4 separate regions of the Homo sapiens genome follow, and regions 1, 2 and 3 are each linked to region 4. The links come from fine-mapping of genetic effects on gene expression. A gene starts in region 4. Each other region holds a variant in brackets. All regions are shown on one strand. Distances are from middle to middle.

Evidence for each region.
Region 1: its variant is fine-mapped to the expression of PALLD in macrophages after interferon gamma (Alasoo 2018, PIP 0.95).
Region 2: its variant is fine-mapped to the expression of PALLD in whole blood (TOPMed, PIP above 0.99).
Region 3: its variant is fine-mapped to the expression of PALLD in whole blood (TOPMed, PIP above 0.99).

The regions. Positions count from the first base shown.
Region 1 is chr4:168,417,202-168,425,311 of GRCh38, reverse strand. DDX60L (DExD/H-box 60 like) reads left to right here. Exons shown (of 38, transcript NM_001012967.3): 15 at 1,538-1,704; 16 at 2,642-2,788; 17 at 3,403-3,552; 18 at 4,932-5,051; 19 at 5,915-6,010. Among named protein-coding and RNA genes, the nearest start is that of DDX60L, 59 kb to the left of the region's middle. The variant T/C (reference allele first, on the strand shown) is at 4,551.
Region 2 is chr4:168,845,123-168,853,232 of GRCh38, reverse strand. The region is part of intron 10 of PALLD (palladin, cytoskeletal associated protein); the gene reads right to left. LOC102723331 (a long non-coding RNA gene) reads left to right here. Exons shown (of 2, transcript XR_007058358.1): 2 at 1-8,110. Among named protein-coding and RNA genes, the nearest start is that of CBR4, 160 kb to the left of the region's middle. The variant T/C (reference allele first, on the strand shown) is at 4,185.
Region 3 is chr4:168,793,690-168,801,799 of GRCh38, reverse strand. The region is part of intron 10 of PALLD (palladin, cytoskeletal associated protein); the gene reads right to left. Among named protein-coding and RNA genes, the nearest start is that of PALLD-AS1, 150 kb to the right of the region's middle. The variant A/C (reference allele first, on the strand shown) is at 4,514.
Region 4 is chr4:168,492,414-168,500,523 of GRCh38, reverse strand. It overlaps PALLD (palladin, cytoskeletal associated protein), which reads right to left and starts at 3,472. Exons shown (of 22, transcript NM_001166108.2): 1 at 3,330-3,472. It overlaps LOC107986198 (a long non-coding RNA gene), which reads left to right. Exons shown (of 4, transcript XR_001741448.3): 2 at 7,639-7,858.

The DNA of each region.
Region 1 (8,110 bases), 75 kb after region 4:
AGTGGGCTGTCAGAGACTATGCTCATTTTCATCTCTAAGCTTTAGCATATGTGTTTTTACTTGATGCCATATCAGATAGGAATTGCCATTAGCTATTAACAGAGATAGGAATTAATAATGGCTTAAAAAAGATAGTTTATTTCTCTTTCATGTAAAAGAAGTCCAGAGATAGGCAGTTCAGTGTCACTGGGAACTTAGGCTCCGCTATCATCGTATTGTACCGTTCTTAGTGCATGAGTTGTATTCTTAAAGTTATGTCATGAATGCAGTTGGTGGCTGATGCTACAGCCATGATAACTGTATTCCAAAACAAAGTAGGAAGAAGAAAAAGGGCAAATTTGTACATTCATGCTGTATTTCTTCTATGGAAGGAGGCTTCATCCCAGAAATTCCACCAATTTTTGCTTACTTCTCAATGGCCAAACTTAGTAACAAAACCGCACCAAACCACAGAGAGATTAGAAAATGTGAACTTTGAATTGGACCTATTGCAGTATCCATTAGTATGGGGATTTATAAGAAAGCATTGGGTGAGAATGGATGTTGAGGAGGTAATATCAGTTTCTGCTACAGATGTTCTTCTGCTTGTCTCTATTGGCCTAAATTCTGTGTGTCCTTCAAGGCCATCCTCTTGTGGAGTCCTCCCAACTTCTCCTGCTCACATAACACTGCTTCTATGACTCCATTTGGACCCTGAATTGTAAATCACTTAGATATTTTACTGATCTGTTTCAACACTAATCCCTTGTTCTCCAATTAGATTGAAGGTTCCTTGATGTAAGAACTCTGTCTTAAATTTCATTTGTACTTCCTTAAAGCATACATTGGTGGTCTGCATAAGCAGTTGCTCAGTAGTATTTGTTAAGAAAGAGGATATTTCTTAACAAAGAGGAAAGAGGATAAAGACTTTATATGACTTTATATGGAGTGGTTAGTAGTGGGATAGAGATAAAGAGGCTATAAGTGAACAGGAGGTAATAGAAGGGCTTAGGAGAGTCTGGATAGAATGATTGGGATGCAGTGAGGTTGTATCTTAGCCCTCAATAATTGAAGGGTTCTGCTGATGGTTTCATAAATACAAGTACTGTATGTGGTCAAGAGTAGGCCTTGATAAATGTTGCTCATGTTTTGGTCAGGCATCTAAAATCATAGGACTTTTTCCTGTGAACAAGAGTAGAAGACACACAAATAATATGTGGGTTATTGTGTTATTTTTCTCTGGAAATGAGTACAGAGCTCAGTTTAAATGGTTCATATTTCTGCTATAAATCACAAAGTTTGTTTCTTTTCTTTTTTGCCTATACTTACCCAGCTATGTCTAAGTTACTTAAGATGATAATTAAATGTGTGTAGATGGAGTTTTAATTTAATTTAATCATGAGTTTTAGTTTTTAATGCTCTAAAATCTCCTTTAAAGTCAAGTAAAATAGTGAGGTTTAATCACATGAGGTTAATTGATTAACTCAATGATTGTCGTAAGTGATCAACCAGTTATTTTTGGTGTTCTTTATAACAATTTTATTGTTTCTTTAACAAGGCAAAATTTCGAAAGATTTAAGTATAGCTGTTCAAATGATGAAAAGGATTCATTCACTCCTGGAGAGATACCCAGAAATTTTGGAAGCAGAACATCATCAATATATAGCTAAATGCCTTAAATATTTAGGCTTTAATGATCTGGCAAACTCTTTGGATCCAACTCTGGTAAGAGAACTAGAATTTCTTATACTTTAAATTTTTACTCAATTTTAATATGGAAGAATAACTAATAGGTCTAATGAAGTATCTCACATATAGAGTTATCAATTGACTATGTTTACTCTGATTCTAGTTTATAAAATAATAGATATGAGATTACTTATTAATAACCTAGCTGCCAAACTTTGAAGTAAATTAAAATTAGAAAATTTGTACAGATGCTTCCTGAAAACAGAAATTAAATACTAGATGATATCCAGATGCCACTTTAAACCCTCTTGGTAACAGGAATGAATCCTATACTTAATTCTAGTGCAATCTAAAAACTGTAATGTAGTGAGATTGAAGAATGGTCTTTAATAAGGTTCCAGGTTCCAATTCCAGGATGAACTTTTTTTAACGTTAATATCTGCTATTTGACTTTTCCCAAGAATAACATTTTAGGCAGGAAAACTCTTCTTACTTAAATATTACACTATTTAAAAGCATAGTAGGCCAGGCATGGTAGCTCACGCCTGTAATCTCAGCACTTTGGAAGGTCAAGGTGAGCAGATCACTTGAGCCCAGTAGTTCAAGACCAGCCTGGGTAACATGGCAACACCCTGTCTCTACAACACACACACACACACACACACACACACACAATATTAGCCACAATTGATAGCATGTGCCTGTAGTCCCAGCTACTCAGCCAGGGCATGGGATAGGGAGTGGTGGGGCTGAGGTAGGAAGATCACTTGCACTCAGCAGTTCAAGGCTGCAGTGAGCTATGATGGCGTCACTGCACTCCAGCCTGGGTGACAGAGAAAGACCCTGTCTCAAAAAAATAAAAAAAAGTGTAGTAAAAATGCCTTGTGCATAGAATGTGCTCAGTGGATATTTAATAAATGTTTATTCAATTTTGAAGTTTAAGTTGATTTCAAATAATATATTAAAATAACAGATAGGAGATGACAAAAATAAGAAGAAATATTCGATTGACATTGGACCAGCTCGGTTTCAACTGCAATACATGGGCCATTACTTGATAAGAGATGAAAGAAAAGATCGGGATCCCAGGGTCCAGGATTTTATTCCCAACGCATGGCAGGTAATGACAACAAACATTGTACTTTTCTAATCAGTGTGACTTCAGAACTTTTCATTACTGTGTCTCTACATGTCAAATTTTGCATAAACTTCTTAATCTTGTTTAATGTCTTTCCTCTACTGTGCCTGGAGAATGTAACTAGAGTATGAGAAATCATTCATTTCTTCCCCTTCTTGGCCTTTTTATTTTCACCATCAGTGGAAGTTATACTGATACCTGTTTGTATGTGAAGGCATGCTAATGTGGCATTACTAGTTCTTACAGCTCAGTTTTGGAAACCTCTTTCTGTACTTACTCAATGACAATTGGAAAAAGTGTTTTCTAATGGAAAAATATGTTTTACTCAGTCTCCCTTTCTATTTTGCAGAAATGAAACCCTCTCTCTAGGCCAAAATGTAAAACAAAATCTCTTTTCTGAGGGAATGGCATGAGTAATCCAGGTATTTTCCTGAATCCTTCGAGTGTTCACCAGACCTAATCTTCAGGGGTTCAGGGAGTTCCCCCAAAGGTAGCATAATACAGGCACAGGAGACAGAAGGTACAAAGGATACTGTCTGTGTTTTGGTAACATGCTGTTCACTTTCTTGACACAAATGGTGCTTTGTACCCTGCAGCAGGAACTCCTGGATGTGGTAGATAAGAATGAGTCAGCAGTGATTGTTGCCCCAACGTCCTCAGGCAAAACCTATGCTTCCTACTACTGCATGGAGAAAGTGCTGAGGGAGAGCGATGTCGGGGTGGTTGTGTACGTTGCACCCGCAAAGGTAGTGTTTGAATGACTTTCATTTTTGCTTTTGTTCCTGAACATCCCCTTTAAAAAGAATGCACACGGTCACATGCTAGATCTAATTCACTGTTATTTTATTTTTGAGACAGAGTCTTGCTCTGTCACTCAGGCTGGAGTGCAGTGGCGCGATCTCGGCTCACTGCAACCTCCACCTCCCGTGTTCAAGTGATTCTCCCGCCTCAGCCTCATGAGTAGCTGGGATTATAGGCACGTGCTGCCATGCTGGGCTAATTTTTGTGTTTTTAGTAGAGACAGGGTTTCACCATGTTGGCTAGGCTGGTCTTGATCACCTCAGGTGATCCACCCACCTTGGCCTCCTGAAGTGTTGGGATTACAGGCGTGAGCCACCGTGCCCGGCCAAGAAACTATTTTTGATATTTTTATTTCATCTCATATGTTAATATTTTCATTTATAGTTACTGCAATTATACTTATTTTTAGAAAATATTTCACTATCATGAATATAAAAATGATGACTATAGTATTTTTAAGGATTAATTTTTTAAAAATTTACATTTTAAGTTGTTTCCCTTTCTTTCTTTCTCTCTCCCCTTTCCTTTTTTATTTTCCCTCCCTCCCTTGGAGTGGTATGCTATGATTATAATTATGAAGATTTATGTTTTTCTTTTAATTAATATTGTTTCAATTAAAAAATACAGCCAGGTATATATGACTTCCATTTCCAGCAATATGGCCATATAGGTCAACAGAAAAATCTCTTTGTGTAAAATACCTGAAATGCTGGATAAGAGACACCAAACATCTTTTTATATAATTATAGTTAAGCTCAGAACAATAGAAGGGGAATCCTAGGGGCTGAAAATTTTAAGAGAAGGCCACATGGGCTCTTTGCCTCTTTTAGGCAGCAAGTTGCAGGGGCTTAAATAAGAAAGGATCCCGACAAACACAGGCAGAGAGAGCACTAGGAGGATCCCAGGCAGAGCAATGGTGGTTTACCTGGAATCATGAACCAGA[T/C]ATTCAATAGAAAGTCATTCATTTGCCCATTGTCACCATATACATGATATGTAATATCTGTCTGTCTGTCTGTCTGTCTATCTATCTATCTATCTATCTATCTATCTATCTATCTATCTCATGTGTGTGTGTGTGTGTGTGTGTGTGTATGTGTGTGTGTGTTTAAAATCAAGGAGGATCAAAGAGAATACTCAGTGGTATCAGATAATTTCATTACCATCTGTATTTTTCCCTACTTCATTTCATTTTCATTGAAGTGTGTGTGTGTGTGTGTGTGTGTGTGTGTGTGTGTGTGTGTATGTGTATGGATTCGGTTGTCCTCAAGGTTTTATATGTCTCTTCTCTACTAAGTGACTAATGGTTTTTTTTCTTGTCAATCAGTCCCTTGTTGGTCAAGTGGCTGCAACTGTTGAGAATCGTTTTACTAAAACGTTGCCTGCCGGCAGAACTCTATGCGGTGCTTTTACAAGAGATTATTGTCACAATGTACTAAACTGTCAGGTATGACATATTAATTAATGAGTTTATTATCAAATTATAGAGCAGTACTTATATAACTGTTTTGCTGGGAATCTGCAAAACACAAGCCCTTATAGAAATCATTTCACTGAATTCACAAAGAAAATGAAATTGCTCTAAGGAAAATTTAAGGTTGTTCTACTCTAAAAAGTAAGAACTAGGCTCACCATCTCTAAGGATATTCACATTGTGAACTGAAATTTCAAATAGAAAGTTATGATATTTCATTATAACTTAGAGAGGGAGTCAAGTAGATTTGACAAACCCAATGCATTACTAAATGACTATCCAACCTTGTCTTTCCATTCAAAATTGCTAGGTCTTGTGAACAATATTTATACTTACATTGTGATCTGAAATTTCAAATAGAAGATTATGATATTTCAGTATAACTTAGAAAGGGATTCAAGTAGATTTAACAAACCCAATGCATTACTAAATGACTACCCAACCTTTTCTTTCCATTCAAAATTGCTAGTTCTTTTGAATGATATTTATGGATCCTCATAATAAAACCTTGTCTCAAAAAGATTGTGTGTTGATAGTGGACCCGTCGATAGGTAAATCATAGATTAAGATAGATTGTCTCCCTTATTGAATTCACAAAGTAGACATTTAAGACTAAACAAAATGTAAAACAGTCGTTACAGAGTAGAAGCTCTTTTTCATTTTCATTAATCCAAATGTTCATAAATGTAAAGACTTAAATGAAAAACGTCAAAGATGCAATATTATCTTAATGAAACTGCTATCAGCAGCAGCATATTTTCTAGGTTCCTATTACTATGCCTGATATAAAATTAATGCTCCATAAAGTTAGCTACACTAATCATTCATATTTGTAGGTACTTATTACAGTGCCGGAATGTTTTGAAATCCTGTTGCTTGCTCCTCATCGCCAAAAATGGGTGGAAAGGATCAGATATGTTATATTTGATGAGGTAGGTTTGGTGTTAGTTCTCTGGTTGATGTTCTAGTCTGCATACACCCTATAATTTGTAATTTAAAGAATATAGGGCTTTTTCAATGATGGCAGTTAAGTTGTGCGTCAGCCAGGGTACCAATGGAAAACAGATTGCATATTCACGTTAGTACAATTTTTAGAAAAGTGTTTTTACTAAGGGGCTGTTTACAAAGGTTTGTACAAGGGAAACCACAAGGTAAGTGCAGTAATCCAGAATAGTACAAGCCTTTCAACCCTGTAAGGATGAAGGGAGGGGGAAGCATTATGAACCTTAACAGAAGAGAGATTCTATAGATATGTCTCTTTGAGAAGAACAGTGACCTTGGTGAAGAAATGCAGCTGGCCAAGGTTGACCTCTTAGGGAGAGAGAGCAAAAGAATAAAGACCTTGACCTCACTGTCTTCTCTCCTTCCCATTTCTTGCCTAGGCTTCCCACTGGCCAAACCCAGTAGAAGCTAGAGGGCTAAGGAGGCTGGGTGAGCCAATTCCCAAGGTCAGACTCATTGGCCAGAGAGGAAGGTGGCGAATGGTGTAGATCTGGAAGGACATAGCTATGTTATTATCAAAATGAATGGAAAGAACTGTAAATAGAATTCAAGCTTTGTATTTTGTTGCTTCAAGGAATTTTCAACTTAAAGGAAAACTAGGTGATAAACCTATGTAGTGAATCTACTCCTTTTTTGTGTGAAGTTGAGAGTTGGTAGACATGCTGTCATTCTGCTTTCTTTGTGCTGAAAGTAGTCTGTTTCCTTTTATGCATCAGGCTGTATTGTGTGTTGCTGACTTTGAACATTCCCGTTTTAAGGGAAAACAAAACAAAACAAAAACCTTGATCTTTATGATCTAGAACCTTGGATTGTGGTCTCATCTCAAAATGCCTAAGCACAATAATGTTAAAACATGGGTAATGAGGCCGGGTGTGGTGGCTCATGCCTGTAAACCCAGTACTTTGGGAGGCTGAGGCGGGTGGATCACCTGAGGTCAGGAGTTCGAGACCAGCCTGACCAACATGGTGAAACCCCGTCTCTACTACAAATACAAAAACTATCCAGGCATGGTGGCATGCTCCCGTAATCTCAGCTATTCGGGAGACTGAGGCAGGAAAATCACTTGAACCCGGGAGGCAGAGGTTGCAGTGAGCCAAGATCACACCACTGCACTTCAGCCTGGGCAACAATAACGAAACTCCATCTCAAAACAAAAAACAAAATGTGGGTAACTTTGGTTTTCTGATTTATACATGCACAAAACTTGATTGTAAGAAGGCTTTAAAAATTGTTTATTCTAGAAAGTTCAGAGAAATTGCCTGCTGATACAAAATATAAGATTAGCATTTGGTAAAGTGGGCGATTATCTGACTAGATCAAAGTCAGAAGGGATATGAAAATATTCTTCTTTATGTATTTATTACTAGCCTTGATTAGTAAGTCTTTCCAGCTGAGACCCAATTGTCACGATGTATTCTGTTTAAGACCAAAATTTGGACCTCCTCTCTAAGTCTTAATTTGCATTATTGAACCAAAGAGGATTGATTCATTCATTCAACAGATATTAATTGAGTACCTACTCTGTGCTAGACACTGTGCTTTCTCCCTGATATGCCAGTACTGACCTTGTGGTTTAGTGAAGGGGAGAGCAATTAAATAAGTAAATGTACCAATGAAAATATAAGTAAACATTGTGATACAAACTCTGAAGAAAAAAAAATCAGTTAGTTTTCACCAAGATAATAGCAAAATGGGAAGTAAGAACAACAACTTTGGAGCAGGTACTCAGGGAAGGTGTTTCTGAGGCAATGACCTTCAGCTGGGCTTTGCAGGGATAAGCAGGAATGGTCAGCTAAGAGGTGGATGAGGATTTTAAGTAGCAGGGTCGTATATGTGAAGGCCCTCAGGTGGAACACGTGTGTTCAAGGTATGAAAAGAAGGCCAGTATGTTGGGAGCAGAGTGCATGGCGGGGAAAGTGGCCTGAGATGGGGTTGGAAAGGTGGGAAGAAGCCAGACCATGCAGGAAGTTACACTTCCAGTTAAGCAGCTTGTGGTTTACTGTAAATGCATTGGGAGGACAGTGTAGGGA
Region 2 (8,110 bases), 350 kb before region 4:
AAAAATGTCTGTACACACATGGGAAAAGCTAGTAATTATGCTGGCTAAAAGAAAAAGTTACTCTGTGAGATGCTCATATATGAAGTCCTCTCAGATGTTGCTATCTCACTTCTCATTTTCCTATCAATAATTAGCTATGTGTGACTTTTCTCCCTTTACACTGCAATGTGGTTTCTTCTGTTTTTCCTAAATGGCTAAAATTATGAAAACTAATTTATTAGTCCTAAAAAGTAAACTTGACATTTTTTGTAAAGTTTAACAGTAAATAAAGAGTTAATATTACCAAAAACAACTGAGGCAGGGAAAAGGGCAATTCCAGTGCAAAGTCTACTACCCACTGATATCTGTGATACATAAAATATTCTAAACACAACATGTAGGTTTCTTGATATCCACACCTAGAAAGCATTAGAGGGAATTAAGAGAAATTGTAGCCGATTAACTCATCTAAAAGCCCACAAAGCAGAATAAATCTAATTACCATGGCTTAAGGCAAATAATACCTCTTGCAAAATAACCAAAAATTCAAGCTTAAAGAGCAACTACACTCTTGTAGGCACTACTAACTTTGTGGATGGTTCTTTCCTTTTGAGACAGGGTCTCACTCTGTTGCCCAGGCTGGAGTGTGCAGTGGCATAGTCACGGCTCACTGCAGCCTTGACTTCCTGGGCTCAAGCAATCCTCCTGCCTCAGCCTCCCGAGTAGCTGGCACTACAGGTGTGAGTTACTGCACCCGGCTAATTTTTGTAGAGATAGTCTAGCTATGTTGCCCAGGCTTGTGTTTTTGTTTGTTTCTTTTCTTTTCTTTTCATTCTACCTTCTTTCCCAGCTCTCTCAATGAATTTAACAAATACTGATTGAGCTTTTACTACATGTTGGGTGCCAGAAATCTAGTAGTGATCAAAACAGACACAGCACTTGCCTTCATGAAGCCACATGAAGCCAGCAAGTACAGTGTGGCCTAAAACAGAAGAATGTTTAACTGCATGAAGGCAGGGTGCTTTGTATTGCTGGGCTTGGTGTATATTTCTTTGCTATCTAGTTTAATATATTGAGCTTTACATCTGTGCCAGCCTTGCATGTCCATATACCTTTGGCAGGCATTTCTAGTCAGGTGGCATGGGGCAAGGGGTGTGCTACGTTTTAAGTCCCTCATTTCTCCAGCCTGTCCAGGTAGTGTCTACGTCTCCAACTCACTCAGGAAGGCAGGAGACTTCCAGATTCACTCCACTGGTATCAAGAGTTAGGTTCTGGTGAGAGAGCTGGCAGAAGCTTCAGAGGACCTTGCGTCTTAGCCTCCTCTTTTTTTCCTGTCCTCAACAGCAAGTTGTTGCCTCTAATTTTCAGAAAATCGCAGCACATTTCCAGGAGACCTGAAATGCGGTGGACTGCTTCAACATTAGATTATTTTGGCAGACAGGGATAGTATTTAGTGTAACGTCACCTATATGCTTATCAAATAGGGGTAAGGGAGTCATAATTATTTTAATGTCTAATATTAACGGTTCTTTAATAAATTACTTATTAAAGTTCCAAGGTATAAGTCTTTTAATAGAAACAGGTTTCAGCCAGGCGTGGGGCTTATGCCTGTAATCCCAGCACTTTGGGAGGCCAAGGAGGGTGGATCACTTGAGGTCAGGAGTTCGAGACCAGCCTGGCCAGCATGGTGAAACCCCGTCTCTATTAAAAATACAAAAATTAGCTGGGCGAGGTGGTGCTCGCCTGTAGTCCCAACTACTAGGGAGGCCGAAGCATGAGAATTGCTTGAACCCGGGAGGCAGAGGTTGCAGTGAGCCGAGATTGCGCCATTGCACTCCAGCCTGGGTGAAACAGCCAGACTCCGTCTCAAAAACAAAACAAAACAAAAAACAGGTTTGGAATGAATGCAAAAAATCTACGAGAGACTGGCCAGTTGTACTATTAAGTTATCAAACAGTTTTATCCTGCCTCTCTCTTCCATTTTATATATTTAAGTCACTTTTAATTTATGGGGGTATGGAGGAGAGACATATTCTGGAGATGGAGAAAATAAAGGTAAGCCAGACTGTGGGTCCACAGGCTCTGCAGCAGGGAATAAATGTTGGTGCAATTGGCAGGTTAGAGACACATGGGAGGAAGGGAAGAGGATGTAAAGAGACAAAGACAAGAAGGGAGACTGTAGGAAGCTGTGTGTGTGCTGCTGGCCTGGGAGACGGCACCCACTGACCTCCTCTGGCCTCTCAGTCACACTTGGGCCAGATTAATTCATTCTGCAAACTTTTCTTGCCTGCCCATGGAATGCCAGGTACTGAGCTAGGGTTCGCAGACACATGCTAAGCAGCAGTAAAAAGAGCTTATTTTGTATAATACTCAGCTACTACTGAGCTAAAACTAGGAGAGCATATTAGAAATGACAGACTTAGGCTGGGCGCGGTGGCTCATGCCTGTAATTCCAGCATTTTGGGAGGCCGAGGCGGGCGGATCACCTGAGGTCAGGAATTCAAGACCAGCCTTACCAACATGGAGAAACCCCGTCTCCACTAAAAATAAAAAAATTAGCCAGGTGTGGTGGTGCACGCCTGTAATCCTAGCTACTCAGGAGGCTGAGGCAGGAGAATAGCTTGAACCTGGGAGGTGGAGGTGGTGAGCCAAGATCGCACCATTGCACTCCAGCCTGGGCAACAAAAGCAAAACTCCATCTCAAAAAAAAAAAAAAAAAAAAAAAAAAAAGAAATGACAGACTTACAAATTATATAAGTGAGAAAAGGAGACTGACTTTCCCTACAGTATACCGCATTTTTTCCAGGCTTTTCAAACAGGTTTGCAATGTGAACAATCGTTATCTTCTAGAGGACTTTTATGAAGGATTTTAGTAGTGCAGGCCTGGACATACCATATTAAAAACAAACCATTTTAGAGTCAGGGAAATGTTTCCCTCTTATCTTTTAAATTCTTGGTGGGGAGTAGGGGCTGAAGGGGGAGCATTCATTCCTTCCAGGAGCCAGGTTGCAGAAGAAAGCACTCTCACACAGGAGCAGGAGGGCTGAGGCCTCGCGAGCTACCCCCACGCTTGGTTCTGGCAGATCACTTACATTTCAGGACCTAGGCAGATGAAGTTTCCTGGCTATATGCTAAGACAAAACTTTTCCTGCTTAAAATCAGATCTTTCATTTTTTAGTATTGAGTATAAGGGAGGATTAAAGGAGTTTATTGCTTTAAAAATTAAGGAAATACACTGAAAAACTGGATAGGAGTTTATTCATTGTATTTTATGACACCAAAGATGAGCAAATGCATTCGTAAGTATACATAATAAAATAAATATAGCCTGGCATCTCTTTTAATGGAGGTAGCTTGGGGGTGAGAAGAGGGAATGGGGAAGATAAGCTGGGGGCCAGCTCTGAATTCTTTATGAGCCCCCTGATGCAGCCAGCCACACGTGGTGTGAATCTCAATAGTGCCAGTTCTTCTTTCCAAGGGTCAGTGTTTTTTTTTTTTTGCTTTAAAAATGGGGATAATAATACCTGTAATGAGATTTCTTGTAAAGTTTAAGTGAGGTTATAAATGTAAAAGTCTAATGTCAAATCTGGCTACCAAGAATTCAAATTTTCTTTCACTTTCCATCAATAATGATAAAACGTGAATATTAAGCATGGTTTGGATTGAAAACCTTCTCAGGGTCTCAAAGTCTAGTCGAGAATTCAATTCAGACTTTAAAAAGCAGACATTCAGTTCTCTCCAGATTTGTGAATGAATGCATTGTTACTAAAGAAGTTTCAGTGCCAAAATATACACTGTCTCTTCCTTTCTCCTTTTTCTTCTGCAGCTAAGTCGGCCAGAGCATTCTAGAAATCACCTTAAAAACGCATCCCTCTTCTCCTACTGGAGTTTATACAATGACAAAAATCTGATCTGGCTTTTTCAAAAAGCAAACAACAAAACATCCAAACAACATAACCCTGAGTCTTTAACAGAAAGCTGGTGCTTGCACCAGGGGCGTGCAGACGTCTGGAACGCATTACAATCAGCTCCCTAAGGGGCAGCTTATCTCTTCCTCTGATGCTATCGGTTTGCCAAGGAAAGTTAAAGACAAAAGTCAACTGTTGCACCCAGTTGGAATGTGAACATGTGGGAGAACCTGAAATATACTAAGACTAATTTATGTTCCGATGGGAGTGGCTCTCATGGTAAGGACTGAAGCAGTA[T/C]ATCCTGCTTTTTTAACGAATTTTTTAACGAAAAAAATTCTCACAGCCTGCAGGAAGAGCTACAAAATAACCCCCTCTCATCTTTACTGACTGTAGTTAGTACTCTCGTGTTGCATTTTAGGGAAAGTTCATTTGTGTCTGCAGTGGACTTCGAAGTTAATCATACCACAAAACTGTAGAGAATGAACATCTTGAAATTATTTCAGAAATAAGAGCTCCAGGTAGCCTTTGAGATTGGTAAAGTTTAGAAATAAAGTATACTTACAAAGCTGCATCTTATGACGTTGCAAAAGACTGATTTAGGATCATTATTTGGTGTGAAATACATTTTGCCAATGTAAGCCTTTCCTTTCAACTGTTTAAGGCATAGAATACTAGTACATTCTACATTTAATGTTTGAATTCTACCAGTTTTAGAGCTCAGAACTCAAATTAGCATCGTTCTAAGTTTGACAATAACCCTCTTTTTGCTTTTAATAGTGTCTCCCTTCATGTACTGAGTGTGCCTACGTTTTCCTCGAATTGTTTTCTCATCAGTGGTGGTGTGAGAAGCCTTCTTTTAGGAGAAAAAACACAGAACACCACCAAGTAGATCTGTGTCTAAGATGGCCAGTGCATTCGGCACACTCTCTGGGCTGACAGGCACTGAACAATGGCTCTTGCTCAATAGGCCTGGTTTCCAGTCACTGACAACAACGATCAGTACCTTCAATCTCTAAATTACACAAATTTACAGCTTTGATTTTTAGTCTTAGAAGCCATCAAGGACAGGCCCCAGGACAAAACAAAGTGGCTGGCTCCCATCTGCTGAGTAAGCAGAAGGGACAGTGGAGGAGTTCCTCTCAGTTTGCTTCACTTTCACTTTGCCCAGGGGTGGGGTGGGGTGGGGTGGGGTGGGACGGGGGTAGGGTTGCCGGAGGAGGCTAACTCAGTCCTCAGTCACCACCTGAGGACCACTCTCCAGGAACTTAGCACCCCCTGGGCTCAGTTTTCTTAGAGGTTAAATGAGTAGATTAGGCTAAATTCTGGCTCTAAAATTGAGTAACTATTACAGGGAAGTAAAAAATAATTCTGAATAATACTGATTGGGAAATAGAGTGTCAGAATTAGTTCTACAGCTAATTAGCTCTCTCTTAATATGCCTGGGACTTAGTTTCTTCCTTTTTTTTTCTTTTTTAGAAAAGGAATATTCATTGTGAGAAACTGAAGTATCAGAAAGTATAAGAGTATAACTGGATTGTTTGTAATACAAAGGATAAGTGCTTGAGGTGATGGATACCCCATTTACCCTGATGTGATTATTACGCATTGCATGTCCATATCCAAATAGCCCATATACACACCTATGTACCCACAAAAATTAAAGATAAAATATTAATTAAAAAATAAAGTGAAAGTAGTACGATAATAAAGTAAATGTAAAGAATTTCCCACATAACCACCAATCCTCATACAATTCCACTCCACAGGGCAAAACACCAATAAAATCTTGGTGCTATCTTTCCAGAACCTTTACTATACAAATATAAATACTTACAACACCCATATGTTTACATGTTTGGGTTTTTGTTCACAAAAGTTGGATGAAGCATATGCACATTTTCCCTCAGTGATCTTGTATCTTTCAACGATGTATCATGGGTATCCTTCCATGTTGGTACATGAAGGTTTATTTCATGCTTTTGAATGGCCTCATAGTATTCCATAGTATAAACCATTCTTTATTAATGATAGACATGCTCTCTTCAAGTACTCATTAGTGCAAATAGTGTAGCAATAAAGCTGCCTGTACAACTAATTTGTACTGTATACTTGTTTTGAGTTTTCTGTGGCAAACATGTCTAGAAATGAGATTATTGGGTCAAAGGATATGTGAATTTGACATTTTAATGGGTATAAATTGCCCTCAAAAAAGTTCTTAGGACTTTATCTGAAAACAGAGGAAAGAATAGATGATCCTTTTCTTTTTTCAACTGAGCTTCCAATTCAATTAAGAAGCCTTAAAAGCTGGAATGGCAGATGGGAGCAGCTTGCAATTCCAGTCCCCTTTCAACCAGCCCACTAATTTCAGGCCTTTTCTTTTTTAGCAAATATCAAAATTCTGTTTTGCTTTGGTCTCAATATTGTCAAATTAACATTTTTTCATGGTAATATTGCTAACCGTAAGCGAATTGCTTATTTCTAGTAGTGGGTAAGAAATGGATGTCCTGGTACCCACTGGATGCCATGGACATGTACCCAGTGATGGTGATGCTGACACCACCAGTGTGGGTACCATACCCACACTTTGAGAGCCTCAGCTTTTCAGAAAGCCCTTTAATTCTTCGGAAGAAGCCTGCAGTTAGAGGACTCCTATCTTCCTCTGGGTAGACTGTGATTTACATGTATTTGAATGGTAATCAGTCACCTTAATTAACATAGCTTTTCTGTTACATCTCACTACCATGACATGCAGGCTGTTTAACAGGTCACCTGTAAAGAGGAAACTGCAAAATTCCACATGGGCTTCCTGGAGTTCCTCTTACAGACCATACCTACTCTCCCTCGCATAACGGGTGTTTAAAATTCATTTAAGGCAACTAGAAATAATTCCATGCCGTTCTCATCTTATAAAAGGAACTCTTTGTTGATCAGATGTTATTAGTGTTGAAATTGATTCCTTATGTATTATTTAAGGTCTTAGGTTTACAATAATCACCAAGTACCTATAGCTGCTTAAATTACCCATATCAAACGGACATATTTAACTTTCAGTTGTCCACGTTATAAAAGGAAACATGAGAAAACTTGAGACTTCCCCTTGACTGTATGTAGTGGATCTATATAGTACTTCCAATCTATTTTCTGTTCTAGATCTTTTATGTAAGAATGAAAATAGTAAAGCGTGCAGTGGGCTTAGGGTTGAGCAAAGGGACAAGTCAATATTTGTACATGCATGGTTGAATGCATATTAGAGAAGAGGACTTGGTATTGAAATGACATTCAGTTAAGGGACAGAAGAGTAGCAAAAAGAGGTATCCTAGAACAGCTACTTGCCATCTCAGATTATTGCAAGAGGAAGCCTCACTGATTGAGACCACATTAATTTGAAATCTGTGATACCTCTGAGATTTTCACTAACAACTAAAAAGGGGGCTTGTCAAATAAATCAGTAGTATAACAATTGGCAAAAGTGCTGCTTAAGACAAACGACTTTCAAGCCCTTGGGAAGCATTCATTACATTACTATTTAAAACCGTGGCTTTACTTCCCACTGGTACTTTCTTAGTCTTGACTAGCTGAGTTCTTTGTATGTATAAGTCTTCCTTTTTACAAGAGGTTTTATGATTTAGGAATCTCTTAAACTCTAACAACCTGTCTCGTGAGTACAGTTGTCCCTCGGTATTTGAGGGGGACTGGTTCCAGGAACCCTTCGGATACCAAAATCCACACATGCTCAAGTCCCTGATAAAAAAATGTCCTAGCATTTGCACATCACCTACATACATCCTCCTGTATATTTTAAATCATCTCTAGATTACTTATAATACCTAATGTAAAGGCTATATAAATAGCTGTCATGCTATATTGCTTTTTTTCTTGTATTATTTCTATTGTTGTATTACTGTTTTTGTTTTGTTTTTCCAAATATTTTTGATCTGTGGTTGGTTAAATCCATGAATGTGGAACCCAGGGATCCAGAGGGCCAACTATTATCTAAGACAGATGATGCTATTGGAAAAGAAGAAAGGTGTTAGTAAGGGTCCTAAAATTCCTTAAAGGACCTAGAACAATTTCTCCAATGATATAGACAGGTAGGAAATATTTTGTTCGATTTCTGACCGTATCCCTTGATAGAAAGCACATTTTCATGTTTTCCATGGCACTTTGGGTGTGGAAAGCAAGGCCTTCCACAGCTGGTAAAGCCTCCCTCACCTCCTCTGCTC
Region 3 (8,110 bases), 300 kb before region 4:
GCAGGCAGGTTCCCTGACACCCAGCGGTGCCTCTGCAAGCACGACGGGGTGTTAATCACAAAAGGAGAGACATCTTAACCCCTTTAATTACTTTACTTGGGTGTGGATTCTTAGTGATATCCTACTTTATCTGGGGGACTTGGGGGCAGGTCGTTCTCTTTGTCTTGTAAGCAATTATTTAAGATAATTTCTATCTGCACGTCTTTTAAAAAAATATTTACAGGCTGGGCGTGGTGGCTCACGCTTGTGATCCCAGCACTTTGGGAGGCCGAGGCGGGCAGATCACGAGGTCAGGAGATCGAGCCCATCCTGGCTAACGTGGTGAAACCCTGTCTCTACTAAAAATACAAAAAATTAGCTGGGTGTGGTGGCATGCGCCTATAATCCCAGCTACTCAGGAGGCTGAGGCAGGAAAATCGCTTGAACCCGGGAGGCAGAGGTTGCAGTGAGCCAAGATCGTGCCACTGCACTCCAGCCTGGGCAAGAGAGTGAGACTCCATCTCAGACAAACAAACAAACAAAAAAATTTTACACTTTAACAAAGAGTTATAGAGCAAACACCCAGATTGTAACCACTGCTCAGGTAAAAAAATAGAACAGAAGATTCCTGTGTGTGCCTCCCCCTCATACCCCTGGGTTTTCCCAGGGTAACCGCAATCCTGACTTGCAGAGTTATCATTTCCTTGATTTTCTTTCTAACTTTACTATTCAGTTATGCATCTCTGAGCAAGGTACTTGGTTTCTCCCTCCTTTTTCAGCTTTATATCAGTGGAATCTGACTGTATTCTTTTTGTCTGTATGCTTTTGTTCTATATTATGTGTGTAAGATTTATCATGTTGTTTCGTCTAGCTATAGTTCATTTATTTTAATTGCTGAATAATATTTAATTGAATTACTCTACCACAATTTCCTTACTTGTTCTACTGTTGATGGACTTCTGGAATATTTCCAGTTTGGGGTTATTATGAGCAGGGCTGCTATGTACATTTGGGTTACGTGTCTCTGGGTGCACGTATGTAAGCATTTCTTTGAGAAATATACTCAAGAGTGAAGTTTGCTAGGTCATAGAGTTTGCATAACTTTGAGTTTATCAAATTATGCCAAACTCTTTTCCAACGTGGTTTTTAACAATTTATACTCCCACTGGCAGTATATGAAATATCCTGTTACTTCACATCCTTGCCAGAACTTGGTATTATCAGGCTTAAATTTTTGCCAATTAAATGGGTGTGTAATGGTATCTCTGTTGTTTTAATTCATATTTTTCTTATTACTTAATGAGATTGAACATCTTTTCATGTTTATTAGCCATTTGAATTCTCTCTTTGGTGAAGTGGCTGTTCTACTTTTCACTTATTTATTTTTTATTGCCTGGTAGCTTTTAAAAATTGATTTGTACGAGTTCTTTATTTATTCCATTTGTAACCCACATATTCTGGTCCAGTGTTGTCTACATAAGTTGCAAATACTTTCCACCCTATGACTTGTCTTTTAATACTCCTTAGGGTGCCTTTTAATGATCAGAATTTTTTTATTTGAACTACTTATCAAATTTTTCCTTTATTATCTTTTTATGCCTTGTTTAATCCACCTGGAAGCAACTTTTGTATATAGCACAAGGAAGAAATTCCTTATAAAACAGAAGCATAAAAGTTAGCAAGTATTATTTATAAAAAGAGGAACTTTTAAAGCAAATGTTCTATATTTTTCTCCTTTACTACAGATATGAAGCCTGCCTCTGATAAGAGGGAAATAGATCTTCATGTACCTTTTTTAGGGACAACAAAGTATCTACCTTTGAATTCCCTTAAGAAGTAAGAATATGTAAGTGTGATAGGCCCTCATGTAAAAATCATCTCTTAGGGTACCCTATATAAGTGCATGAATACATACAGTACACAAATGCTCGTAAGTGCATGAACCATTTTTGAAAACATACATAGGAAATAGTTATAGTTGTTACCTGTGGGAATGTATTATTTACATTTTCTGCCTCAGGGAAAAGAATATAATGTTTAAGATAATTTCCATAGTAGCTTAACAGGAAAGTAGCATCAGATACACCAAAATTTATTCACATATGCTCTTTCAGGAACCCATCTATCCAACAGAAGTGCTGATTGTCAATTATTTTACACATGCTTTTCGCACACACACAAAAATCTTGGTTACTTAACAAGCACAGGAATTATTGCAATCCACAACTATACTGAATTGCCAGGTACTCAATCTTTTCTAAGCTATGGGACTTGAATTCCAAACCCTATTCCCAAATTCATTATCTGAATAAAAGGTAGCACAATTGATAAGGGATTTGCTCATAAGTTCAAGGTGAGTAGGAACAGTACGACTTAAAGAATTTGCATTAGAAATGTTTTGATGTTGAGAGACTTCGGTTACCTTTCCAATCAGCTGACTACCCTGGACAAAGCAAAGAACAAGGGTTTTCTCTTCTACGTCTGTTAAAACAAACTAAATATGGCCTGAGAAGGACTCTATACTTCTGTATTTGAGTCCTTGTGGATGAATTGCAACCTAACTTAATAGGTAAACAAGATTGACAGCCTAAAAGTTTGCATCTGTAACAGTGGTTGAGTCTTGGCCAATCCCAGCAGCCATACCTCAACCACTCACACACTGCCAAGTATTCAAACTGTGTACAAATAAGGCAAACACTGACCTGTAACCAATCCAGCTGTTTCTGTACTTCACTTCTGATTCCTGTACGTCACTTTATTATTATTATTTTTTGTCTATAAATTTGTTCTGACCACAAGGCACCCCCGGAGTCTCTCTGAATCTGCTGTGATTCTGCGGGCTGCCCGATTCATGATTCGTTCATTGCTCAATTAAACTCTTTTAAATTAAATTAAATTTGGCTGAAGATTTTCTTTTAACACTTCTTTCTGCATTTCCTACTGAACAATTTAGCTGTACAAAGAATTAACTATGAATTCTCTCACGCTTTAACAAATGAGACAGTTCAAGTTTACATGGGCAGCAATGAGTTAAGTATTATAGCAAATGAGTCAGAAAATACATATATTTTGAAAAAATTTAAAACATTTCAGCAGATACTTAATGTTTGTTTTAGTAGGATAAAAATCAGTTTACAATACGGTTCCACTTTTTAAAAATTTATATTTATGCATTAAAATTAACAGTGATTATTTCTACACAGGTAGGTTATAGTAAAGTTTTAATTTCCTCTGTGTTTTTCACTTACTTTCCAATGTTACTGCAAATCTGTATCTTTATCTATCTAAAGAGAAATAGATATTATAGTAGAAGCGGTAAGAAAATTTTACCAAATGCCTTAGTTTTAGTCATAAGAAGCTTTTTTTCTAATGTTAAAACTTTATAAGAAATGATAAATTTTACTCTATTTCCACAATTCAGAAAATGACACTTGCAAATTTTTAAGTTTGAAACCAACTTTTCAAAACAAACAAACAAAAAACCCTTTATTTTTCAACTTTTATTCCTTTACATATAATTTAAATTTCTCCTAGTGGCATTCTTATTTAGAGGAATTTACCAAACAGTATCCTTACCTTTGATATGGCAAGGCCTTTTAGATAAGAAAAAGGCTCCCCAACTGGGGAGGCACAGATAAGTGAGGTGTACTATCAAACATCTACTCATCATAGAAAGCATGCTGGAATGTACTCCACATTTCCTTACATTGCAAACCCTGAGCCTTGGCTCTATTAGTGTCGGGACAAAGCGGGTAACTGGGCAGACTTTTCATAAAAATAAGGTGGGGCTTGTTTGTGTGCAATTTTGAATGTGATACCCTTAACAAAAGTGTCTGGTTCTGATTTGATGACACTGAACTCAAGAAAAATAGCCAGATTAGGATCAGAAGGGAAGTTGCAAAATTTCCTGATTTGCTGAATATGACATTAATATACAGGGGGAAATATGCTTTGTAACGAGCAAGCGAGCAGCTGTATGGTGGTGGGGGTGGGGTTGAGGTGGTAGAAGAGGGAGCTAATATGGCAATCGGTATAACAACAAACAAAAATCTGAGCTAAATCAGCTGTGTGTTCAACTTCTCATTTGGTCTCTGATATTTTTTAAATTAACATATTTTTCTTGCAAGGTAACATATGGAATAGTTTGACCTTGCCAAGCAAACTGGCAATTCTGTGTTACCGTCACTTCTTCCAAGCCATCTCTTCAGAGTAAAGTTGAGAATATAAATTTGAAACATAAGCCCAGTTCTCACAAATCTAGTTTCTTTTTCGTAAGGCACCTGCTCTTTTCCAAGGCAAAAATGCCTCAAATTTCCTTGGGTATGAAATTATCCCAAAGTGATGTAATTGAGGGTGATCTGATAAACTCCTTTATTAGGAATTAACTCCCTGCGTGGGATGATGATGAACAGACAGATGAGTAGTTCTGTTTATACTGTTTGATTGTCACGGTGGTCTAAATATACTCAACTTTTGGATGACTCACAAAATATTGCTACATAGTATTTGGTAAAGGAGATTAGAAGTCAAAAAC[A/C]GGATGGGGTGATATAGACAGAGGGATTTCAAAGCAAGCCTATGAACATTCGAAAGCATCAGAAAATCATTTGATTGTTTCTTTTTTTCTTTGCTCATCCAACTGTGTCTCCCTCAAGCCAAGTAATTTTTCAGGAGATAAAAATGTTCAAATATTCAAAGATTGGCACAGGTCAAAATCATAAGTGACCTGACATTACTACTGTACTTAGTTATAGTTTTGAAAGGAAAGTAGAGACAACTCAATTTGGTGAGTTTCTTGGGAAATAAAACAAGTAAAATTTCTTCCTTGAAGCACTATTCATTGCTTTTGTGGAACAGGCCAGGTATTCATAATAAAGCCCAGGGTAACTGTATTCACTAGAGACAGTTCAGGCAGAACAAAATGTACTTTGCTCCTTCTAGCTAAGCTTCACATGACCTCGAATTAGGAGACAAGGAAGGTAAAATGTGTTTTCTATAACAAATTTACTATTACTATGAAAAGGTAAGTGGGTATCCATCCCCTCAATTTGATCAAACTGCATTTTTATGAGAAATTCTATGATCTCATTTCCTGCATATGAATATTTTTAAACTTCTCTTCAAGCACCTAATGGCATTGACGTTCTGTAACATTTACAGAAGATATGCCATTTGAATACTTATCAGCCACCAGTGGTTTTCATCTCATAGATGGAACCTCTTACTCATTCCACAAATATTTATTAAGCATAGGCTATGGTTCAGATCCTGGGCCAAGAGTACAGGGCCCAGCGGAGAGCCAGATGGACTCCCTTCTAGCCTGGTGTACCTTAATAACTGCCAATCGTGCAAATAATGCATGATGAGACAGCAAGATCAGTTAGCTATCACAGGACAAGTGAAACAGCCAAACTGAATGTCAGACACCCGCCAGCAGTGACTGGTGTTCTCCTTTGCACTGGGCTCTGAGAAAGCATCATCAGAAATGTAAAACGACTTCTCTCCTCCTTATGTTTGGGGGATACAACAATTATTCTCAAGAAACAATTAGGCCAGCCTGGGCAAGATGGCAGACCCTGTCTCCATAAATACTAAAAAAATTAGTTAGAGCTGGGAAGGACAGTGGGGGGCAAGGTGGGAGGTGAGGGTGGTTGATGGGTACAAAAAAATAGAAGAATGAATAAGACCCAGTATTTGACTGCACAAAAGGGTGACTATAGTCAATAGGAACTTAATTGTACATTTAAAAATAACTAAAAGCATGTAATTGGATTGTTTGTAACACAAAGGATAAATGATTCAGGGGACGGGTACCCCATTCTCCATGATTTCACATTGTGATTATTTCACATTGCATGCCTGTATCAAAACATCTCATATACCCTATAAATATATACACCTACTATGTACCCACAAACATTAAACATAAAAAAAAATAAGTACAAAAAATAGCCAGATGTGGTGGTGCTTGCCTGTGGTCACAGCTACGGGGGAGTTTGAGGGGGGAGAATTCTGTTGAGCACAGAAATGTGAGGTGGCAGTGAGCTATAATCACACAACTGCACCCCAGCCTGGGTGATAAAGCAAGGCCCTGTCTCAAAAAAAAAAAAAAAGACAATTAGGGAAAAATATAAAGCAGTTCATGATTAGCTCCCAATTAACTGTATTCACTGCAGAGACCTGTGGGGAATAGAACATTCTATATTCATTCCTTAGAGCTCATCCACATAGGAACTTTTCTCAGGAAGATTTTCACATGTTAATCATTGAACTTTTTCAGGAAGATTCTCACATGTTAATCATTGTGGTGGACAACTGGAAAACCTCAGATGCTGTAGCGTTCATATTTTGTTGACAGCAACCAATATAATACATACATTTAAAATGGCAACATATATATACTTAATTATCTTAAATCACAAATTTTCCAAACAACACCTATTATGCATTCTTGATTTTTCTATTCTTTTTTCTACTCTTCGATTTCATTTTCAAATTGCCACTCAAGAACCTTTAAATTGATTTCACAACAGTGGGTTACCAAAAACACTGACAGGAATTGTACTTTTCAAATGGTGGTAAAGCTATATATAGTGCAGACATTGTGAGATCTTGCTAAAGACTGAATGTTTGTGTGTCCCTATAATTCTTATGTTGAAATCCTAATTGCTGGCGTGATGGTTTTAGGAGGTGGGACCTTTGGGAGGTGATTAGGTCACAAGGGTGGAACTCTCATGGATGAGAGTTTTAGCCCCAGAGCTCCCGGTCCCTTCCACCGCATGAGCACACAGTGAGAGGCCAGCCTTCTATGAAGCAGGAAGCCAACCCTCACCAAACACTGAATCTGCTGGTGCTTAGATCTGGGACTTCCCAGCCTCCAGAACTAGCAGAAATACATTTCTATTACTTATAAGCCACCCAGTCTATAATGGCTGGTTTCAGCAGCCCAAACAGAGTAAGACCATAAGAAAACACACTACTATGACTACCACTACTACTAATGATCGCTAATATTCATTGAGCATTTACTATTTACTAAGCACAGGGTTAAAGATATTACATGGCAATTCTTTCAGCCTCACTTTTGGCTGATTCCCCACAGGCTGTGAGCAGTAAGACAGATGCTGAACACTCTACCCACTGAAGGAAAGGGCTAAGCCACCATACCGAGAGGCTAAAAGACGGACGTGTAGGTTATGTCCACAGAGCCAGAAATCAGTTCTGCTAGCCTGGCCACTGATAACCCCTCTAGCTAGTGAAAGAGGGGTTGAGGCAGCCAGAGGGGTGTGTGTGTGTGTGTGTGTGTGTGTGTGTGTGCGTGTGTGTGTGCGTGCATGTGTGTGTGCGTGTGCACGTACGTCTGTGCGCTGCGCGTATGTCTATGTGTGTGCGCGCGCATGCGTGTGCGCATGTGTGTTGTGTCTTCCACCCTGGGGGAGGAGAGGATTGCTTTCCCCTCACCTTCAGTGAAGTGGGAGGGCCTCAAGAGGACCCCTTAGAGGGCCTGAGTAAGTCCCTTGGAATTTCAGGCAGGTGGGAGAGGGTGACACTCTCACTGCCCGAGGACAGGCCATAGGGCATGCAGGAGTTTCGCCTCAGGCCAGGTGGGCCTGGAAGGAGCCTACCGGGTCACTATCACAGGAACTCCATCCACAGGACCATCCTGCAGGGGGAGGGAACCTAACTGAGAGGGCAGCTGGAGGAGCGGGCCTGGAGAACCCCTGGAAAAGGGGTTCCGTCGAGGCTGAGGACGGGAGGAGCCGTGCCACTGCACCTAGAGGAGAAACAGCCCCTAGAAAGCTGGGGACAGCCAGAGAGGAGGCCAACCCTGTGCCTCCCCGGTGGATACCCTAGGCAGAACGTGGCCTTCCTGGAATAGTGTGAGGGTGGGGAGAGGTTTCACCTAGGCCTAGACCCAAGTTTAGATGACTGAACCAGACAAGATTTTAATTACTATACTGAGAATGATCTGTTTCTGATGGGAAGACTTCTATCTGAAAGCTACTAGAAAGCTATGAGGTCTCTTGGGATTTCACCCAGTGCAGAGAAAGAACCACAGGGTAGGAGATAACGACTGTGGGAGGGAAAGATGGGCTGTGCTCTTCCTGTGCGTATCTTTATGATGTTCGACATG
Region 4 (8,110 bases):
AGTGTGATGGTGTGTGCCTGTAGCCCCAGCTACTCCAGAGGCTGAGGTGGGAGGATTGTCTGAGTCCAAGAGTTCTAGGCTGCAGTGAGCGATGATCAGGTCACTGCATTCCAGCTTGGGCAAAAGAGTGAGACCCTGACTCAAAAAACAAACAAACAAGACTTATGGGACCACCCCCTGGCATGATCCCCATGAATCAAGGCACTATTGACTGTTGAAATTACAACAGATTTCTTTGACGTGGAGGAACTTGGGGAAGACAAGGAATATACATGAGAAAGAGCAGAGTCTAGTAAGTAGAAAGAATTCAGTGACAATGCAAGTTGTTCCTACATAACAGCTTGGAAGTTACCTGCTTTCAAAAGTGAACAGTTTGATCCTCAGAACAATCCATGTAGTAGATGTTATTTTTCTATTTTATTGTTTGTATTACCCACAACTGCAGCAGAAAAAGTTTCAATTATTTGGCCCAACCTGAGCCATCAGAAAGTGGCAGACTCAGGGTGGAAGCCTGCATTTAACTGCAAAGTTTTCTTCTCTCATTGGAGATATTATAGGAAATTACTTTAAAAATTTAGATAAGGGGAAAACTTTTGAAGTCTGTTTGTGAAATACTTTGAGTCGATGAAGAACTGCTACAATTTTGAAAGAAAAAGTTTGATGTTAGAAAAACATTGACAGGCAGTAAGGATCACTTAATACCATGTACCACATTCAGCAGATTCTTTAGAGAGTCCAGGTGGAATAGCTAAATTCCCATAGTCATTTAAAAATGTATACATAGATAGGAATAAATATATGAAAATGGTTGGAATAACATACACCAAACAATCAACACTGACCTCTGTGGGGGGATTTAGGCAGGGGTAGGAGTTGAAAGGTGGGACATGCAGGGGGATCTTTTGTTGCTTATTTTGTAATTTTTGAAAAAAAGTTATAAGTGATTTTTAATTTTAGGTTTAGCAGTTTTATTTTCATATTTAAGCAATTACTAAAAAAGTAATGCAAACCATTGATACAAATATTAGATATTGAAATATCTTTTAATAAAACCTAAACTATGAAAACCAAAGTTAGAAAAGCTTTAACACTTAATTTTCATGCTTCAGAATCACAGGCAACCCCCCTAGACTAAATCAATAAAGTCCCTCCCTTCCTCCCTCCCCCCTCCCTCCCTTCTGCCTCCCTTCCCCCTTCTTCCATGTCTCCCTCCCTTCCTCCCTCCCATCCTCCCTCCCATCCTCCCTCCCATCCTCCCTCCCTTCCTCCCTCCCTTCTCCCTTCCTTCTTCCCCGTCTCCCTTTCTTTCTTCCTTCCTTTTTTTTTTTTTTTTTTTTTTTTTTGCTACAAAGGGTCCTTTAGGGCAAAAGTCAAACACGAAAATTTTATGAAATTTTATGTTTGATGCAGAAAATGCACTACAATTTTATAATTTATTTCTTAATAAATACACATGGATTATTTTCCTTTCTAATTATTAAATTGTCAATGCAGGCAGATATATTTATCCTACAGTTTTAAATATCTCTTTAAACAGCTTATTTAATCTCAATTTCAAGGACATAATCTAATAGCTCATTTAATGCAGAAACAGCCAAATAAGATACTTTACAGAGTTTTTGAAGTTATCCCATGTCCTGTTCATCTTATCAACTTTATTCACCATACTGAGTCCATTGCAAATATTTAGATTTTACTTCTGAATTATCCATTTCCATTACCATTATCCAATTCAGGGCTTTATTCTTCTCACTTAAATTCAAAACCTATTTACCAAATTTGCTTCTATATTCTCTAATATGATTTAACAGTTAGAAATTTTAGTCGAAGATACTTTGTTCAATCTTTGTTTTCTTTGCTGTAATTTCACCGGGACACAGTCATTAACTCTAGATGGCCTGAATTTCTAACTGGAGCTCAGTAATTGCAATACCCTTTGACAGCCTCCACACACATATTGTTTAAGAAGTGGAGCTCTTGTCTGGGCCTTGCAGATTCCACTTGGTATCTCTTAAAGAACTTGTCATATTTATTTTTAAACCTGAATAATGATTGCCCTCTACATTTTTAAAAAATGAGGTAAGGAGGTCAAAGTGATTGTACTTGTCCAGTGCAATCCAGATCCTCATTCTATTGTGAAATATGCTATAAGGCCAGTTTTAATATTCAGCTCTAGCAATAACAGAGAAACCCAGAGGAAGAGCTGACACAGAACCCCTGGGATACAGACCCTAATCCATACCAGATTCTAGGATGCCAGAGGACTAATTTATATTCTAGGAATGTGTAATCATGTATTTACAGGGCAGTTAGTGGCCAGATAAACCTCATCGGCCTTTTCTGCTGTTAGCAATAACTTGTCAAAGAGACTTTGATTTTAAAAATCTGAAAAAAAAATCTGAATAATTGAGGTGAGTATTCAAGTTCTTTCTGTGAGAAAAAACATTGGAAGGCACATTTATCATGAAATGAGGATTTAATTTCTGCATATATGTGATTGAATAGATTTGTAATAGTTTTATATTGCCAAGAAATGGCTTTATATGTCACCACATTATTCATACTAGAAGGCAATTAGTATTTTTAGCAAATGTTAATAAGTAATATGAGCCTGAAATCATTTTATGTCAACCTCCTATATTGGATTCAAGACAATTTCATGTGCAACTTAAAACAACATGATAAAAATTATTCTGTGATGTTTAAACTTGACTGGACTCGAGATTGCACTGTGGTTTCCCTTAGTAAGCGTTATCTTATTAAAAATATGTATGTAAATTTTATGCATGAATATAATTTAAAATACCTGCTGTTACTATCCCAACTCATTTAATTATGTCCAGTGAGTTACTTTTAGAATCTTTTGAAAGTGTAATTAACAATTTATAATGTTACTGAAATCTAAGGTCTATCACTTTAAGCCATCATCACTTATCTAGCTTAAATATGGGTGAGGGTCTAGAAAGCTGCGTTTTCCTTTTCTGTGAAACATAACACATACACGATCTTGACAAAAGCTGGCTCCATAAATACATTTAATCCTTTTGGAATTGATAGCACCATCTTAGCATGCTTAAGCTTATAACAGAAAGTGTAATTCTCTGACAGCAAAGGCAGAGATGAAGTGGGCAGGCAAATCTTACGTATTATCTGTTTTTGGCAAAACCGTAACATTCTCATTACGTTTCCTCTCCAAGCAAAAGAATAATTAAGGTATCTTGTAAATAGTATCATATCTTCAGAAAAACTTTTGTATTTTTAGTTTTTTTTTTTTTAAGTCCTTAAAATGTTGCCCTACTAGTTAGTATATTAAGATACACCTTACAGACCTTTTCAATGCTTGGTCAGTTTGAAGACTCCAGAGAGGTGATGAATTTCAGATGAGCATTTCTTCTTTTCTGGGAGAATGGAGGTTGTGGCCTTGCCTATTCATTAGAGACTGCCTGGTCCGTGGTCACTTTGAGGCAACTGTGGCCTCAGACTCTCATCTGTCCTCTTACTCCACTCAGCTATATTTGGTAACTGAGCTCATGTTTCAGCAGACTGCCACGATCAGGAATTCCAGCAGCGGGCTGGGAAGCACCCCCAGGACCGAGGGCTGGGTTCTTAGAAATAAAGCCACTTAACATAGAAGGAACTATATTTATGGATCTGATAAACGTAGGATTTAAACACATTCTTCTATACTTTGGACTTGTAGCTGGAAATCACCACCTGGACCTTTAACATGTTCTTAATCAATTTAAAGTACAGTATGTGACTCCAAGTAGAAAAAGTGATAATCCAAATGGAAGCTCTTCTTACTCTGATCTTCTGTTCTGTGCATTTAAATTTTGGTCATGTGCTAGATTACCCTAAAATAGTAAATTCAGTAACTGAAAATTTAGCCACCTGTCAAATTGAGTGGAAAGTCCCATTGTTCTCTTATTTCATATTGCTAATTAAAAATTGATATATGACTATGGTATGTATTAAAGGCCTTGTCTATAATAGTATTAAATAAGTATGAACACACAGGGACTGGATCTTATCCACATTGCAACATTGAGTTCTTAGCTCAATGCCTAGGACATCATGAGCATCTCTTAAATATTTGTCAAAGAAATAAATGAATGTTGAATGAATAATATTCAGGAAAAGTATCAACCCTCTTACAGTTGCAAAAAATGTTTCACAATCATTTAATATTTTGATCTTTCAAATGACAAATAGATATAGCAAGAGTTTAATATTTTGATCTTTTAAATAACAAACATAGATAGCAAGAAGAGAAAGCTTTTCTGTTTAAAGGTCAGGTAGCAGAATCAAATATAAGGGGGGCAAAAAGAGCAACACAAAAGCTCCCAGTTAACTTGGAAATGGGGTGCTGAGTCTTCCTTTGTCTGGGTAAGACCATCACATTTGATTCAGTTTAATATCTAAATATTTTTTCTTTTCTGATGTTAGAAAATTTGTGAAGGTCTGCTATTGTATTTTCTTTATAGGCCAAACTGGTCCTTTAGAAATGGTCCTTTCTGTGAGTGGATACTTCTGTGGGTCATTTCATCTATTATATTAATTAAGAAGTGATTTTAAAATTTATACTTACGGCTGGGCGTGGTGGCTTATGCCTGTAATTGCAGTACTTTGGGAGGCCGAGGTGGGTGGATCATGAGGTCAGGAGATTGAGACCATCCTGGCTAACACAGTGAAACCCCCTCTCTACTAAAAATACAAAAAATTAGCTGGGCGTGGTGGCGGGTGCCTGTAGTCCCAGCCACTTGGGAGGCTGAGGCAGGAGAATGGTGTGAACCCGGGAGGCGGAGCTTGCAGTGAGCCGAGATCCCATCACTGCACTCCAGCCTGGGTGACAGAGCGAGACTCCTTCTTAAAAAAAATAAAAATAAAAATAAAAAAATAAAATTTATACTTACAAGGAAATATAACTCTGATTGATTGTCTTAGTTTGTGTCATTATAACAAAATGCCACAGACTGGGTAATTTACAAAGAACAGAAATTGATTTCTCATAGTTCTGGAGGCTGGGAAGTCTAAGATCAAGGTGCCAGCAGGTTTGTTGTCTGGTGAAGTTCCTGTCTCTGCTTCCACAGTGATGCCTTGAGCACTGTGTCCTCACATGGCAGAAGGTGGAAGGGCAAGAGGGGGTCAAACTTCCTCCATCAAGCCCTAAGGGCATCAAATCCCATTCATGAGGAGTCCTCCTGAATCACCTTCTAAACGTTACACCTCCTGATACTGTTGCATAGGGGATTAGGAATCAACAAAAATTTTGAAGGGGACAAAAACCTTCAAACCATAGCATTGCTTAAACACATATTTATATCTGCTTTTTCCTAAAACCACAAGATAATAGTAAAAACTGAAAAGGGCAGAAATTGGGAGGGAAGACAATAGAAGATATCAGAAATGAACAAAATTGTTGGAAAGAGATAAATATAAGTATGCATGTAACTAAATTACAAAGCTTAAATGCCTGCAGGAGGAGATACAGAAAAGAAGCAAGTGATTCACCCCATGGAGTCTCAGAAAGGCTTGGGAATAGGAAGCAGTGAACCCATCTTTAGAAATAATTTTAATTGGCAACTCTGATTTTTGCCTCTGCCTTCTGGTGAACTGTGAGTCTCATGGTGAATTCCAGAGGCAATCATGTTGGACTACTGGCCAGACGAGGCCTCTCCCACATTTCTTTGGATTGCTTGGTTCCTAAATCCTGGTATAACACCAGTGAAGTGATGAAGCCATAAGAAGAAAAAAGAAAAAAAAACAGCTTGTGGTCCTGAGAGAGGCTTCAAAGATGGATATGACTTTACTCAAAAGGACACAGAAATGTGACCTTTTTGTGTGTGTATTGCAAATAGTGCAGCAAACCAAGCTTGTTTTAAAAATCTTATAAGAAGTTCTTTTCCTTAGAAAATTGGCATCAAAAAAATTTAGAAAGTTTGATCAACACTCTTAAGTTAGTATAGCAAGGTCCAGTTGATATTAAGGATGAGATTAGTGTGTGGACAGTAATATCATTTCTCATGCACTTTCATATTTTCCACCAGAGCCCATTTCTGTGTGCACGAAGGTTGGGAAAGGGAGTCTGTGGCTCCTTCATGGGGCTCCAGTTCAGCTTTCAAATGATTACTTCTTCTTATAGAAATTCCTGCTCTTTTGAAGCACTTATATTTGCATCAACCATCCTCCATCCCACTTTTTAAAATTAAGACTTTGGATCTAGTTGGGCTCTTGGTTCTCTTCTTCACTCCACACCCTGCCATTATTCTGGGTGACTCAGCACCCATTTGTCTATTCTATATGTTGGCATATTGGTTTTGGACCTGCTTTTCTCTATGAATCTTCATCTCTGTTCCTCTTACAGATCACACAAACAGACCTCCTCCACCTCCAAAATCAGATATAACTTATCTACTGCTTCATAACAAATTACTGCAAAAATTAATGTCTTAAAACAATATATATTTGTTATTTCACACAGTTTCTATGTGTCAGGAATCCATTAGTCTTAGCTGGGTAATTCCAGATCAGGGTATCATGAGATAGTACTGAAGATGTTGCCCCAGCTTCTTTCAGGTGGAAGCATGGCTGGGGCTGGAAAATCTGCTTCCAAGGCAGCTCACTCACGTGCCTGGAAAGTTAGTCCTGTTATTGGCTGGAACCCTGTTGACTTCTCTGTGTCACTGCCTGAGTTTCCTAGCTTCATGGCAGCTGGATTGTGCCACAATGTCTTTTTTTTTAAAGTGGAGTTTTGCTCTTGTTGCTGGAGTGCAGTGGCATGACCTCAGCTCACTGCAACCTCCACCTCCTGGGTTCAAGTGATTCTCCTGCCTCAGCCTCCCAAGTAGCTGGGATTACAGGTGCCCACCACCACGCCCAGATATTTTTTTGTATTTTTAGTAGAGATGGGGTTTCACCATGTTGGCCAGGCTGGTCACAAACTCCTGACCTCAGGTGATCCACCCACCTCAGCCTCCCATAGTTTTGGGATTACAGGTGTGAGCCACCGCGCCCGGCCCCATTATATCTTTTATGATCCAGCCTTGGAGGTCATATTTCGTCTTTCCCGCAGTATCCTTTAGTTATACAAATTGGCAGTATCCACTGTGGGAGGAGACTGCATAGAGGCGTAAAAACCAGTTGGCAAGACAATGCATTGGTGGTCATCTTGGCAGTTGGCTACCACACCTCTATTCCCTTTAACCCATCAGTCCTATAGCCACATTGGGGCATGCTCTGTTTTCACAACTGCACGTTCAAACATGTTATTTGACTGTAAACTTTCTTCCTCTAGCTCTCTCATACACTGATTTTTCTTCTTCACCAGAATTTCCAGGCTGTAGATCACTCTGTTTTGAGATTATCTATCAGTCTGCCTCCCAGGTTCAGGTCAATCGAGGATACTGGTTTACAAACTTTGTTTTAGGAGATACAAACTCTTGGGCAGCCAATAGAAAAAGTAAAGGTATTCAAAGTTTCCTTGATGAAAGGGGTGTGCAAAGGAATGCAGCAGACTTGCTCATTCATCCCCCTTGGACGTTTTCTTTTTCTTACGATCCAGGAAGTTTGAAAATCCTAAGTTTCAAGAAACAAGTCTACTTACTCCCTTTTCACTTTTATTCCTCTCTTCATTCCCAGCGTCAACCACCAGGAAACAAGGATCACGGAGCATGTGAGAAAATGGTAATTGAGAAGGCTGATCAAGGAACACACTAAAATTGGAGGCATGAAACACTTGCAGAATTGTCCCAATGGTCCATCTGGGGATCCTGGGAACAAGTGTCTTTCAAGCCACGACCAGTCTTTCTACTTCTTCCTCATACTTTGTATCTGGCTTGTGTACATGTCACAGAATCAGGTATGGCCCCAAAGACTTGTCTGATTAAACTGGTATATCTATCTGTACGTAGCAGGGAACTCCAGATTTGTCCCTCATGAGCTCGATTTTATGAACTGTGATTAAATCTGCATAAATGTAGCCTGAGCCTGTGGGTGATCTTTTGGTCACATGTTTCTGCTACTTGGGATGTTTGCTAACTTGTGCATATGCACAAAAATGAAGAGAGAAACATAATCTTATGATGATAGGTAATAGAAGTAGAATTGAGAT